4 linked regions of the Homo sapiens genome follow. The protein of the gene in region 4 interacts with the protein of the main gene of each other region in a pairwise test. Each region holds a gene or a part of one and is shown on either strand. Other genes may lie near its edges.

Region 1 (3,500 bases), on a different chromosome or scaffold from region 4:
TTTCCTTGTTCAGGTCAGGGCCTGGAACGCCTGTGCGGGGAGGTCACTCAATTCAAAATTTTCTGTATGAAAGCATTTTTCACCAAAATGAGCCTCATCCCTTTATGCAACACATAACCTTACTGAGGGAGGGAAATACAGAAGCCACCTTTTTATTTCTCTTCACTGTGTACAAGTTCACTTGTTGTCTTGAACACTGTCTCAAATACCTGCTTTTTGTTTTGGATAGTACCTTGTCTGTATAAGAAGCTGGCCTTTCCATAGAGAGGCCCTGGAGTCTAAAATTATGAGAACAATTAATTTATTTGTGTCTTCTATTATGATCTCGTTTTGACAATAAAAATCCTTACTACTTTCTCAAATGTGGCTATTTTTTTGTCCTTTTAACAATAGTTATTCCACTCTACCCACCCAGAGTCACACTGAACTTGGTATTTTGAAAAACCATTGCCTTTTTATTGTCTCCTTTTAACATCAAATGTTTTATAACACACTTGATCCTTTTGTTTCTACCCCCTATTCATTACAGTCAAATTAACAGGCAATATAATAGGTCTAACAGAATGCTTGCATTTCATTAGGGAAAAATGAACGTCTCTCTCCTGAAACAGGTTGTCGGTACCTTGAATGACATAATATTGGTGTATAGACTAGGTTCAGCAGAGGGATTTTTTCCACATCTTGAATGAAAATGTTAAACATGTGATGCACAGAGTATTAACCTGTTTCAAAAAAGTATAGATAAATAATTTATTAAAAAATATATATACCTTGTATATTTAAGCCATATTTGAGAACAGGCTAGGATAGGATTATTTAAAAAAAGATATTTACTAGAGTTAGAAATTACAACCTACTGATTAAATAATGCAGGTTTGGTCCTGTAAGATTTTAACCACTTTTCATGCTTTTAGAGCTTCTGAGCAGTTGGAGAGAGAGTTCAGGAGGTATTCTTGGCATTCAGTGCTTGGCAGGCCCTCAGGAGCCGCTCCAGCCCTTTTGAAAGGGCTCTGCATCAGGGTTCAAGTCCGCAGCATAGAAGAGCAGGAGCTTCAACAAGTGCACTTTGTCTTGGAGTTGGGGGACAAGAGGCTCCCCCAGCATCTGGATCAGGCGGCTGCGGAAGGCCTCAATCTGCTTCTCTACGTCTACCACTGTGATGTCATCTCCTTGCTGGGGTTTGGGCTTAATCCTTTTGATTATTAAGTCCTTTCGGTCGATCACGGAACTCCTTAAGTGTTCTGCAAGAGGGAAAAAAGTCAGTTGGGTGCTCTGAACTGCTTTTTAATTCTTTTTAAGAAGTCTAATTTTGGTAGGTAGAGTCTTGGCAAAGACTTGCTGACTAGCTACAGGGATACAAGTCGAAGGCTGTGTGAGTGCCTGCAGTAACTCCACTTCCAAAAGGCCCTTTGTTCTCAGTTCTCTCGGGTCCTTAAGAAGTTTTACATTAAAAAAAGTGATATGGTTTGGATCTGTGTCATTTTTTATGATCACATAACATGGTCAAAAAATGAAAATACTGAGGAAACAATTAGACATATTCATCTAGTCCATGTTTTAGCCAATAGTATTTAACATGAGTATGATCATGAATAAACAACTAGACAGTCCCAAATTGTAATCCCTGATGTTGGAGGTGGGGCCTGGTGGGGGTGATTTCTCATGAATGGTTGAGCACCATCCCCTTGGTGCTGTTCTAGTGATGGTGAGTTATCATGAGGTCTGGTGGTTTAAAGTGTTTACGTAGCACCTCCTCACTCTTTATTCTGCTGTGGCCACGTAAAACGTGTCTGCTTCCCCTTGAGCCACGATTGTGTTTCCTGAGGCCTCACTGGAAGCAAAGGCCACTATGCCTCCTGTACAGCCTGTAGAACTGTGAGCCAACTAAACTTTTCTTTATAAATTACCCAGTCTCAGGTGTGTGTGTGTGTGTGTGTGTGTGTGTGTGTGTGTGTATACTCCTGACCTCAAGTGATCCGCAAGCCTCGGCCTCCCAAAGTGCTGGGATTACAGGTGTGAGCCACCGTGCCTGGCCTACTCCATGTTCTTGTCAACAGTATTTAACATGAGTGTGATCACGAGTAAGCAATTAAACATCCCAATCATAGGACATGTACAAAATAACTGGCCTGGACTCTTAAAAAATGTCTATTATGAAAGACAAGTAAAAGCTGGGAACTGTGCTGGACTAAAGGAGACCAAAGAGTATGACTGCCAAGTACAGTGCTTCATATTTGACCGTATCCTGGCTCAATCTAAAATCAACTACCTAAAAAGTATATTACTGGGACACTATTAGATAATATTCTATCAAGAACAAGTTTCATGGCAGGCTGTGGTGGCTCATGCCTGTCATACCAGTGCTTTGGGAGGCGGAGATGGGCAGATCACCTGAGGTCAGGAGTTTGAGACCAGCCTGGCCAACATGGTGAAACCCTGTCTCTACTAAAAATACAAAAAAATTAGCTGGGCATGGTGGTGCATGCCTGTAATCCCAGCTACTCGGAAGCCTGAGGGTGGGAGAATTGCTTGAACCCGGGAGGTGGAGGTTGTAGTGAGCCAAGATCACACCACTGCACTCCAGCCTGGACGACAGAGCTAGACTCCGTCTCAAAAAAAACAAAACAAAACAAAACAAAAAAACAAAAAAAGAAAAGTTTCGTGAGTGTGATAATGCACAGTGGTATGAAGTACAATATCCTTACGCTTAGGAGATACATGCTGAACATGCTGAAGTACTTAAGCAATACAATTATGATGGCGCACTTATCAACTGTTTCAGAAAAAATGGTATATACATGGATCAATAGGTAAACCAAATGTGTCAAAATCTTAGAAGCTAATGAATCAGCGTAAACGGTATATATATGGGCATTCGTTATACTATTCTTTCTACTTTTCCGTAGGTCTAAAAATGAAAATAGGAAAACAAAAAGTTATAAAGGTATCTCATCCCAAATCTACAGGCCAGCCCCAATAGATTCTAGAAGTGTGTGGAATTGAGGCAAATGAGCAGAAGGTCACATTAGGCAAATGTATTGAGAGAGTTCTGGGGACTTGAAGACTTCCAGTTGCACATAAGTACACCATCATTTCTCAGTCTCCTCATTTATCAAACGGGGATGATGGCACTTTCACTAACAGTTATTAAAAGGACTGAGCTACACTGTATCCAGATTTAGGACACAGAACAAATCATTTTAAGTGGTATATCAGGTTACATTTTAAGCGGTTTATCAGGTTACATTTTCAAGTAATACATTCAATATGTTTTTTCTCAACCTTCAGATAAAATGATGGAAAAGCAAAATCTCTCAAAACTAAAGTCTGTAATCTGTGAAGAAGTACAGTAAGTATACAACAGCATGTTCAAAAAGTCTGGAAACACAGGAAACAAAGCTGCCTTGAGATGGAAGTGCAAGGCCCTTTCAACCTTCAAACAGCACACATTTACTGAGCACCTACTGCATATCAGGAACTGGCTAGAGTCTGGGGACACA
Region 2 (3,500 bases), on a different chromosome or scaffold from region 4:
TGATTTAATATCAAATAGTGACTGATACTCTATGACAGATGGAATAAAGTATTTCCTAGCAGAGAGTGCAGGTTAAAATGGAAGCACACCTACTTGAGAAACAAGGTGGTGACGTAGGAAAAAAGTCATGGCTTTACAGGGGTAAAATCCGTCACTTTATAGGGGTAGAAAATGACAGCATAAAAATGTAGAGCTATAGATCTCTGTCTTTTTCTAGATCTTAATTTTGGAATGCGTGCTATAACTTTTAAATACAACTGTTCTCATTACCTTTTACTTAGAACCTACGAATAGTTAACTTTTCTGTATGTACTCTGGGCATTATCTTTATGACTACAACATGCTTTCTCTTAAGCGCTTGTGTAATATTTTGGCTCTTCATCTTATGTTGAGGTACTAGACTTTTCTGAATGCTAAAACAGTGTTCAACGTAAGTTTGCTACTTGAAAGTCATAACTCTGCTGCATGATGATACAGTTCTCCAGGCTTCAGGGGCATTTCTGTACTTGTTGAAATAATGGGTTTATTTCCCCCCACTTTCCTTTCCCACACCTTGTGAGTAGCATTTGAAATTGTAAGTATAAAGCACTTGTAAGTGCTCAGTAAAAGGGTTTTTTTTTTTGTTTTGGTTTGTTTGCTTTTAAAAATTATATGCTGTATGTATTATTATAGATTTAGCGCTCCATATGAAACAAAACTCAATTTTTACTCCCTCAAATATATTATTATAGCTGTATACAAACCTCTAATCTGGTACTTGTGACAACGTAATATATTTATATCTGTACCACTGACTAGACTGTGAGCCCCTTGAAGGCAAGAGCCACCTTACTTTTTATAACCTCAGTGCTTGAGAGAGCCTGGCACATTAAAAAATAATGCCCCTCCCAACAACCATATCCAATTTATGTTTTCATTTTTTCTTTCTTCCTTAAGGTTTGGCATAGAAATGGTACCCCTTGTTCAAAATGAACAAGAAGCCTTAGATTTGGATGGGGAACCTGATCTGTCCAGTCTAGAAGGATTCCAGTGGGAAGGTGTTTCCATTTCCTCGTCCCCTGGCTTGGCAAGAAAGCGAAGCCTTTCTGAGAGCAGCGTGATCATGGACAGAGCTCCTTCTGTGTATAGCTTCTTCAGTGAGGAAGGTACAGGCAAAGAAAATGAGCCCCAGCAGATGGTTTCACCTAGTAACTCATTGAGGGCTGGACAGAGCCAGAAAGCAACCATGCACCTCAAACAAGAAGTGACACCTCGGGCTGCCTCCCTCCGAACAGGTGAAAGGGCTGAAAATGTTGCTACCCAAAGGCGACATAGTGCACAATTATCCTCTGACCATATAATACCTTTGATGCATTTGGCAAAAGACTTGAACAGCCAGGAGAGGTCTATACCACCGTCAGAGAATCAGAATTCCCAGGAGAGTAATGGAGAGGGAAACTGTCTGTCATCAAGCGCATCCTCAGCCCTTGCGATCTCCAGTTTAGCGGATGCAGCCACAGATAGTAGCTGTACCTCTGGTGCTGAACAAAATGATGGCCAAAGTATTAGAAAGAAACGAAGAGCCACTGGAGTGAGTATAATTCCCTCTGCTTTTTGTAGAACATCGCATGTGGCAAGTTGGTTGCTTATGAAAAAAGGTTCAACTGTTTTTCTTGGGTATCTGGGATTGTGATTCTCTCAACTTCTAGAAGAATTGTGAGGTTCTTACTTTCATCCTACTGGTTTCTTACACTGAGTAATTCTGCTAAATTAAATGTAATCTAATATGAATGTACAGTACCAGGAAAATATGAAGTCATATCTAAAACCAGTGTCCAAGCCAATGATTCTTTGTATCACCTGACCAAGGATAAGTCACATATTCAGCTGTAACCCAATCTGTTTTCATAGATGCGTTCTGCACTGCTACTGAAGAAAGGCGTTCTACTGTTGCACTTGTAGGGCATGGATGATTGCTGGATTCAGGAGTGATAGGCTTAACACTAAGATGGTTTTAATACTATTAGAGTGCATATATATGAGCAGAGTATAGAAATATTTTTAGTCTGTGTAACTCTGTCCTTCGTCCTTCAGTTACCCACCCTGGCCTTTAAGAGTCTTTTATTTCACTGATACCACTTCTGCTCTTCCGGCATTTCTGCCGCTAATATTGGCTTAACCCTCTCAGTATCCCTTTCTGAAAAGAAAGAGTTGCTGGTAGTGATACAGTCTGGGATCTGGCAATGTGAAAAAAAATGGGTTCTTCTCTTCATTATTTATTTATTTATTTTATAATATTTTAAAATTTATATTAGAGATGAGGTCTCACAATGTTGTCCATACTGCTCTGGAACTCCTGAACTCAAGCAGTCCTCCTGCCTCAGCCTCCCAAGTAGCGGGGACTACAAGCATGTGTCACTGTGCTGGGCTTCTCTCATTTAATACTGAGGTGATAAGCATAGTAGTTAAGGTCATGAATTTTAGACTTGCTTCAAATTGCAATTCTGCTCCTTTGAGCTAGATGCTATATGTAGTGGATGTTACTGGATGACTTAAAATACACTTCAAGCTGAGGGATTGTCCTATGACAAAGAGCTTGTCTCATGGACTGTTAAGCTTTTTGTTGTAAAGGTTTTCTTGCTGAAATTTAAAGTAGAAACTATGCCAAGTTATAAATCAGATATATTTATTTTACTGGCTTTGTCTATACTTCTACTTGTGCCTTACTACACCAAGATGAAATGCTTTCCCTGACCTCCATGGGCTTTCCTACCTCTAGGATGCTAGGAGGCACTTCACCCTGGATTCTTTTTTTTTAAATCAGATACGTTTATTCAACTAAAGTTTGCGTTGGTACCACGTGCGTGAGACTTCTACGATCATGTTAGAGATGGTAGCAATAGTGAAGAACAGTGTATGGCTATCTTAGAATTGATTCCTTTTTCTCCTCTTGGATAATGGCTTTTACACATTGGATTTTATTCAGTTTTCTTTATCCTTCCAGGATGGATCTTCTCCTGAACTCCCAAGTCTTGAGAGAAAAAATAAAAGAAGGAAAATTAAAGGAAAAAAAGGTATGGTGCAGAATATTTTGGAAGAAAGAAGTTGGTGTTTTTTGGTTTTTTTTGGGGGGTGCGGGTTTTTGGTAACCTCCAACTCTTGGGCTCAAGCAATCCTCTTCTCTCAGCCTCCCGAGCAGCTAGGACTACTGGTATGTGACACTACATTAATTCTTTTATTTTTTTGTAGAGACAGGGTCTAGCTATATTGCCCAGGCTGGACTCAAACTCCTGGACTCCAGTGATCCTCTCACCTTGGCCTCCCAAAGTGTTAGGATTATAGATGTGAGCCACCGTGCCCAGCCCCAAGAGGTTCTTGTAGCAGTTCAGCGTTTGTGCAGCTTGACACAGAGCATAGCTTGTCATTTATCAAACACTGATTGTCCATTTACTTTTTTTGGACATTTTTGTTGCCTTGCTTAAGAGGAAAGAAAAGTTTGATTTCCTAATACATCCAGTTAA
Region 3 (3,500 bases), on a different chromosome or scaffold from region 4:
GCTCGATGAAGTGGAAACCAAGTTGTAATGTTGGAAGCTGTTTTCTTGTAAACCATATTTTATGTTTTGGAGTGATTCTTACTGGATGGCTCATGACAGGTGGTGCTACAGTCCCGAGACTACAATGCACTCTCCATGTCTGTGATGGCATTCGTGGCAATGATCTACCCACTGGAGTATATGTTTCCTGTCATCCCGCTGCTACCCACCTGCATGGCATCAGCAGAGCAGGTGAGTCTCAAGGCGACTTCCGGCTTTCTCACCTCTGTCTTCCTGAGGGAGGAGGCTTAATGCTCAAAGAAGTTGTAAGTGAGTGCTGGTCCTCAATCCTTTGTCATAACTTATTTGTCTACAAAATCTGACTGATTTGAACTGATCTGGTGGCAAGGCTTATGCTATTTTAGTTTTCATTTATCACAACAAATGTTAATGACTGTAGGCCACTGGCTACACTGCAGCAGGTGTTACGTGTGTTACGTAATACAGTAGTTCCTCCTTATCTGTGGAGGACACATTCCAAGACCCACCAGTGGATGCCTCAAACCACAGATAGTTCCAAACTCTATAGATACTTTGTTTTTTTCTATACATATATACCGGTGATACCGTTTAATTTATGAATTAGACACAGTAAGAGAGTAACAGTTTTCTCTTTGGGCATATATTTGGTGTTTTTTGGAGACAGAGTCTCCCTCTATCCCCCAGGCTGGAGTACAGTGGCACAATCTCGGCCCACTGGAGCCTCTGCCTTCCAGGTTCAAGTGATTCTCCTGCTTCAGCCTCCCTAGTAGCTGGGATTACAGGCACTGCCACCACCACACACCAAATAATTTTTTGTATTTTTAGTAGAGGCGGGGTTTCACCATGTTGGCTGGGCTGGTCTTGAACTCTTGACCTTAGGTGATCCGCCTGCCTCAGCCTCCCAAAGTGCTGGGATTACAGGCATGAGCCACCGTGCCCAGCCTCTTTCTACATATATTTGGCTTCTCTTTGGCATATCCCAATTGCCAGCATCAGTACCCTTGTGCTTTGGGGCCATTATTAAGTAAAATAAGGGTTACTTGAACACAAACGCTGAGATTGTGTGACAGTTGATCTGATAACCGAGATGGCTACAGGCTGGACACAGGGGTGATTCATGTCTGGGTGGGACAGAGCGGGACAGCATGAGATTTCATCATGCTTCTCAGAACTATTGTCCTGCACTTCAGATATGATCAAGCTGCAGTTTAAAATTTATGAATTGTTTATTTCTGGAATTTTCCTTTTAATATTTTCAGACTACAGTTTGCCTCAGTTAACTGGAATCACAGAAAGTGAAACTGTGGATAAGAAAGACTACTGTATACAAAAAAATGTACCATGTTACCTTTCAAAAAATCTGAAAAATTCTGAATTTTCAAATACATCTGGCCTCAAGAGTTTTGGAAGAGGGATTGTATCTGCATTTCCTTATCTAGAAGAATCCAGACTTGATAAGTGCTCATGATAGGTTTTGTCTTTGTTTCTCACCTTCTTTATCATTTCCACAGCTGCTGTTGGCTCCAACCCCGTACATCATTGGGGTTCCTGCCAGCTTCTTCCTCTACAAACTGGACTTCAAAATGCCTGATGATGTATGGCTAGTGGATCTGGACAGCAATAGGGTGAGGTTCTTGGCTGAGGCATTGTAGAGTCTAGAGGAGGATTGCATTCTAGACCCAGTCCTGAGATATCTGTTTCTAGATTCCTTTCAGGAACGTCCTAAGTTGTTGGATAATTTCTATTGCGAGACTTACTGAAACAAGTTTTTTTAAATGCTCCTTTTACCTTATTAGCCAAATAAACCCTTGGTTAGGTCTCAGAGAATTACAGGATTTATTTTTGCCAGAATTAAGTGACCCCCCACCATATCCTCCAAGAGCAGTCAGACAGTTGTGATCTGAGGGCCATTACATGTGGTATAGATCATCTCTTAATGGTTTCCCTGGGGTATAGTTTCCAGTAAGAAACTGTCTTTCAGTGCAGGCTTAATTAATTATATGACCATTCTGCAATGTGAATACATTCAGACTTTGGTGGGAAGCCCTTATGTGTGCTCATTGTAAAACTTAAAAAAAATAAAAATAAGCGTAAATAAAATAAGTGAAAAGAAAAACCATAATCCTTTTATCTAGAGATAATAACCAATAACATTAAGTTATATTTCATTTCAGATGCATATGTATGTCATATATGTGTGTACATATATCTTACTGTGCAGTTATATAATGTATATTCGTTTATATAATAATAATGTATATACGTCCTCTTATTTTTATTTATGTAAGTGAAATTCCTGAGCAATAAACTCTAAGGTCACGTCTTTTATCATTTCTCTGGTGCAGGTGATTGCCCCCACCAATGCAGAAGTGCTGCCTATCCTGCCAGAACCAGAATCACTAGAGCTGAAAAAGCATTTAAAGCAGGTAGGTGAAGAACGAAGGAAAGAAAGGGGAGTATTAGATGCTGTGGGATTCCTATAAGAAGACAGCTATTCTCAGAGCCAATTTCCTATCAAACTTCAAGTGGAGTAGTTTTCTTCACCCTGGATGGGCTTAAGAAAACGCGTATCCCATTTCTGGGTGGCAGAGTGAATTTCTGTTTTTGATTCCAATTCATTGTATGCTTTACCATCTTCTAATGCTTATGATGCTGTATAAAATAGCCCTTCACTCTCTGTTTCTTGTATGTGTGCCACTCTCTATGGCTTCAGAACATTTTCTCAGTCTTTTTTTTTTTTTTTTTTTGAGATGTGGAGTCTTGCTCTGTCCCCTAGGCTGGAGTGCAGTGGCGCGATCTCGGCTCACTGCAAGCTCTGCCTTCTGAGTTCACGCCATTCTTCTGCCTCTCCAGGAGCTGGGACTATAGGCGCACGCCGCCACACCCGGCTAATTTTTTTGTATTTTTGGTAGAGACGGGGTTTTGCCATGTTAGCCAGGATGGCCTCTATCTCCTGACCTCATGATCCGCCTGCCTCAGCCTCCCGAAGTGCTGGGATTACAGGCGTGAGCCACTGCGCCCGGCCGATTTTCTCAGTCTTGTTAGGTGGAAGTTAGTAGTGTGGACCGTCTGGCTGCTTTTATATTATCTTCTAGAGTTGATCCTGAGGGTTCCTTTCTTCAAAAATTCCTTTATTTGGCTGGGCACGGTGCCTCATGCCTGTAATCCCAGCACTTTGGGAGGCCGAGGCAGGTGAATCACGAGGTCAGGAGTTGAAGACCAGCCTGGCCATTATGTTGAAACCCTGTCTCTACTAAAAATACAAAAATTAGCCGGGCATGGTGGTGGACGCCCGTAGTCCAGCTACTCAGGAGGCTGAGGTAGAAGAATCACTTGAACCCAGGAGGCAGAGGTTGCAGTGAGCCAAGATTGCGCCATTGCACTCCTGCCTGGGCCACAGAGTGAGACTCAGTCTCAAACAAACAAAAAAATTCCTTTCTTTGAGTAATTCCTCACATCCATTTTTTATTGATTGATTT
Region 4 (3,500 bases):
GGTGTGCTGCTGTGATCTGGTGCTGCTTTGACCTTGAAAGCAGGATAACGCATGCACTTACTTACCCCCGCATTACTTGGGTACCTTAAGGACTAGTGGTTCACAACTTACTTTAGGAGCTTTTATTTATTCTGTAACACGTGAGATCTGGTAAGACAGTGGGGGGTAAGGAAAACAGACAAGACCATGACTCTTCTTTCCCTCTTCCCCAAAACGTGCCTCTTGGAATAATCTTCAGTGTGCCCTCCAGCAGAGCCGAAATCAGGCAGGCATAGACTCCCTCCTCTCTCATCAAACCGCAGAAATAGAGTTCCTTCATCATAACCGCAAAGCTTCCTCCTCCCCTTTGCACCCTGCCTCAGCTGCATTTTCTTGTCGCTTCTACATGGGAGTGCTTGCTGTTCTGGGAAGAGTGGGGAGAAGCGGTGGGAATCCTTGAGCCAATTGAAACTGAGGTCATCTTCAGGAAAACCATGTCTTCCTGAAGTTGAAAGATTCAGGCACACCATACAGTCCTTTCCTCATGAATAATCTTGTTCTTTACTCATGGGAAATTGGGAGAGGTTAACCCCTCCCAAGTTTATGTTTGCAAATTCATGTTTATGGGTCCAGGTGAAAAACTTTTCTGAACACAGCATGCTACTTCTCTTATTACCTCTCTCTATTTAAAGAATGGCTAGGCTGAGCATGGTGGCTCACACCTGTAATCCCAGCACTTTGGGAGGCTGACATGGCAGGATTGCCTGAGCCCAGCAGTTCATGACTAAGCAACATATGGAGATTCTGTCTATATAAAAAAGTAAAAAATTAACTGGGTGTGGAAGTGCATACGTCTAGTCCCAAGCTACTTGGGAGGCTGAGGCAGGAGGAGTTGGAGGCTGCAGTGAGACGTGATTGTGCCGCTGTATCCAGCCTGGGTGACAGAAAAAGAAGAGACCCTTCCTTTAAAAAAAAAAAAAAGCCGGGCGTGGTGGCTCACGTCTGTAATCCCAGCACTTTGGGAGGCCAAGGCGGGCGGATCACCTGAGGTCAGGAGTTCTTGAGACCAGCCTGGCCAACACGGCAAAACCCTGTCTCTACTAAAATACAAAAATTAACTGGGCATGGTGGTGCACACCTACAATCCCAGCTACTCTGGAGGCTGAGACAGGAGAATCGCTTGAACCCAGGAGGCAGGGGTTGCAGTTAGGTAGGATCGTACCACTGCACTCCAGCCTGAGTAATAGAGTGAGACTCCATCTCAAAAAAAAAAAAAAAGGCTAAAGAATGTGGCAGTGTCCAATGGTTTGGAAACCCACCTTCTCCTTATCCTTAGCCAAGCATCTTTTCCTACTCCTACTTTAACCGTGCCCAATGCACAAGAAAACCTCTTTTTCCCTGCATTCTGCAAAATTCCAGAGCAACTAGCCTTGCTGATTGTATCACACCTCCATCAGCAACGTGATGCTGGGAATAGCGTACTGGCGAGCAGTTCCAATACTCTTAGGTGCTTTGTGAATGGACTGAAAGAGGCCCCTGCCTGTGTACCTACCGTCATCCTGAGTTGTTCAGCCTTAGCAGCAGCTACTGAAGAGAAACTGTTTTCATCACCCTATTATACCAAAACAAATGGCTAAACAAAACCTTGGAATCTTCCCTCTTGCATGGCTTCCCAGTTCATCCTCTTCTCATTCTGTGGCTTGCCATTCATCATCCCGTGAAGTTTTCCCTCTTCCTGAAATTGTAACCTAGGCTTCTTTTAATGCTCGTATTCTGTTGCTTATAATAGGAACCAGCAGCACAAACACTGTTGGGGCAACAGTGAACAGCCAAGCCGCCCAAGCTCAGCCTCCTGCCATGACGTCCAGCAGGAAGGGCACATTCACAGATGACTTGCACAAGTTGGTAGACAATTGGGCCCGAGATGCCATGAATCTCTCAGGCAGGAGAGGAAGCAAAGGGCACATGAATTACGAGGTAAGTCTCTCTTTTGCCGCAGAGAATCCGTAACACACATCTGAGTCAAGGTGATAGAAACAACTAAGCTGCTGCTTAACGTCTTACGCCACGACCTTCTTCAATTTTAATACTTTAGAAAAACAAGGCAAAAATCCCCCAGGTACCCTTTTATTTTTCCTTCCCTGAATTCCTAACCTCTTGTTGGTCAGCTCAACTTTTTCTTCTTCGTTTTTCCTTCGTCATCCTCAACTACACACACACAGACACACACGCACATGACATCCCTCCCTCTCATGAGGATTATTTTCACCCTTACTTGGTAAATATAAAGAGCCAATAAATACTACAGAAGACTGTTCTGCTGTATCTTACAGGATTATACTAGAAGTATATGTTAGCGCCACACATTTTATACCATGGCCCACACCAGACTTGACACGTGGTGGTTTTGTTTTCAGGGCCCTGGAATGGCAAGGAAGTTCTCTGCACCTGGGCAACTGTGCATCTCCATGACCTCGAACCTGGGTGGCTCTGCCCCCATCTCTGCAGCATCAGCTACCTCTCTAGGTCACTTCACCAAGTCTATGTGCCCCCCACAGCAGTATGGCTTTCCAGCTACCCCATTTGGCGCTCAATGGAGTGGGACGGGTGGCCCAGCACCACAGCCACTTGGCCAGTTCCAACCTGTGGGAACTGCCTCCTTGCAGAATTTCAACATCAGCAATTTGCAGAAATCCATCAGCAACCCCCCAGGCTCCAACCTGCGGACCACTTAGACCTAGAGACATTAACTGAATAGATCTGGGGGCAGGAGATGGAATGCTGAGGGGGTGGGTGGGGGTGGGAAGTAGCCTATATACTAACTACTAGTGCTGCATTTAACTGGTTATTTCTTGCCAGAGGGGAATGTTTTTAATACTGCATTGAGCCCTCAGAATGGAGAGTCTCCCCCGCTCCAGTTATTGGAATGGGAGAGGAAGGAAAGAACAGCTTTTTTGTCAAGGGGCAGCTTCAGACCATGCTTTCCTGTTTATCTATACTCAGTAATGAGGATGAGGGCTAGGAAAGTCTTGTTCATAAGGAAGCTGGAGAACTCAATGTAAAATCAAACCCATCTGTAATTTCGAGTGGGTGGAGCTCTTGCTTTTGGTACATGCCCTGAATCCCTCACTCCCTCAAGAATCCGAACCACAGGACAAAAACCACCTACTGGGCTCTCTCCTACCCTGCCCTCCTCCCTTTTTTTTACCCCTCTCTTTTTTATTTTTTCTTTGCTCTTTAGAACCCAGTGAAAAATACCAGGGTACTGGGGTGCAACTCTTTCTTATGATAGGTCATTAGTGCTTTAAGCAAAAGATATTAGCAGCTTTGACTGCAGCATTAGCAATTAGGAAAAAAAAAAAATTAAGTTCCCTGCGGACATGTAACTTTGCCATCAGTTTTGATGTGGAAACACTGTGATATATAAAATGTTGTTGGACAACAGTAGTTTTAAGAGTAAAATATGAAACGTTTAAAAAGTTCCAAAAAAAGCTAGCTCTGTCCTTTACTTATTGAGACAC

What was found. Proteins that work in one complex are often made in the same cells at the same time.
Region 1: the proteins of WNK1 (region 4) and SIMC1 interact in a two-hybrid assay, tested with the Homo sapiens proteins (one large-scale study listed by IntAct).
Region 2: the proteins of WNK1 (region 4) and ZNF106 interact in a two-hybrid assay, tested with the Homo sapiens proteins (one large-scale study listed by BioGRID).
Region 3: the proteins of WNK1 (region 4) and MADD interact in a two-hybrid assay, tested with the Homo sapiens proteins (one large-scale study listed by IntAct).

Annotation. Positions count from the first base shown.
Region 1 is NC_000005.10:176,342,924-176,346,423, reverse strand, and holds the end of SIMC1 (SUMO-interacting motif-containing protein 1), read right to left. Parts: intron 1,242-3,500; coding exon 979-1,241; 3' UTR 435-978; downstream 1-434.
Region 2 is NC_000015.10:42,446,142-42,449,641, reverse strand, and holds part of ZNF106 (zinc finger protein 106), read left to right. Parts: intron 1-936; coding exon 937-1,570; intron 1,571-2,965; coding exon of another isoform or gene 2,966-2,983; coding exon 2,984-3,053; intron 3,054-3,500. UniProt on the Homo sapiens protein: RNA-binding protein. Specifically binds to 5'-GGGGCC-3' sequence repeats in RNA. Essential for maintenance of peripheral motor neuron and skeletal muscle function.
Region 3 is NC_000011.10:47,276,633-47,280,132, forward strand, and holds part of MADD (MAP kinase-activating death domain protein), read left to right. Parts: intron 1-99; coding exon 100-231; intron 232-1,532; coding exon 1,533-1,646; intron 1,647-2,366; coding exon 2,367-2,447; intron 2,448-3,500. UniProt on the Homo sapiens protein: Guanyl-nucleotide exchange factor that regulates small GTPases of the Rab family. Converts GDP-bound inactive form of RAB27A and RAB27B to the GTP-bound active forms.
Region 4 is NC_000012.12:906,079-909,578, forward strand, and holds part of WNK1 (serine/threonine-protein kinase WNK1), read left to right. Parts: intron 1-1,768; coding exon 1,769-1,956; intron 1,957-2,396; coding exon 2,397-2,714; 3' UTR 2,715-3,500. UniProt on the Homo sapiens protein: Serine/threonine-protein kinase component of the WNK1-SPAK/OSR1 kinase cascade, which acts as a key regulator of blood pressure and regulatory volume increase by promoting ion influx.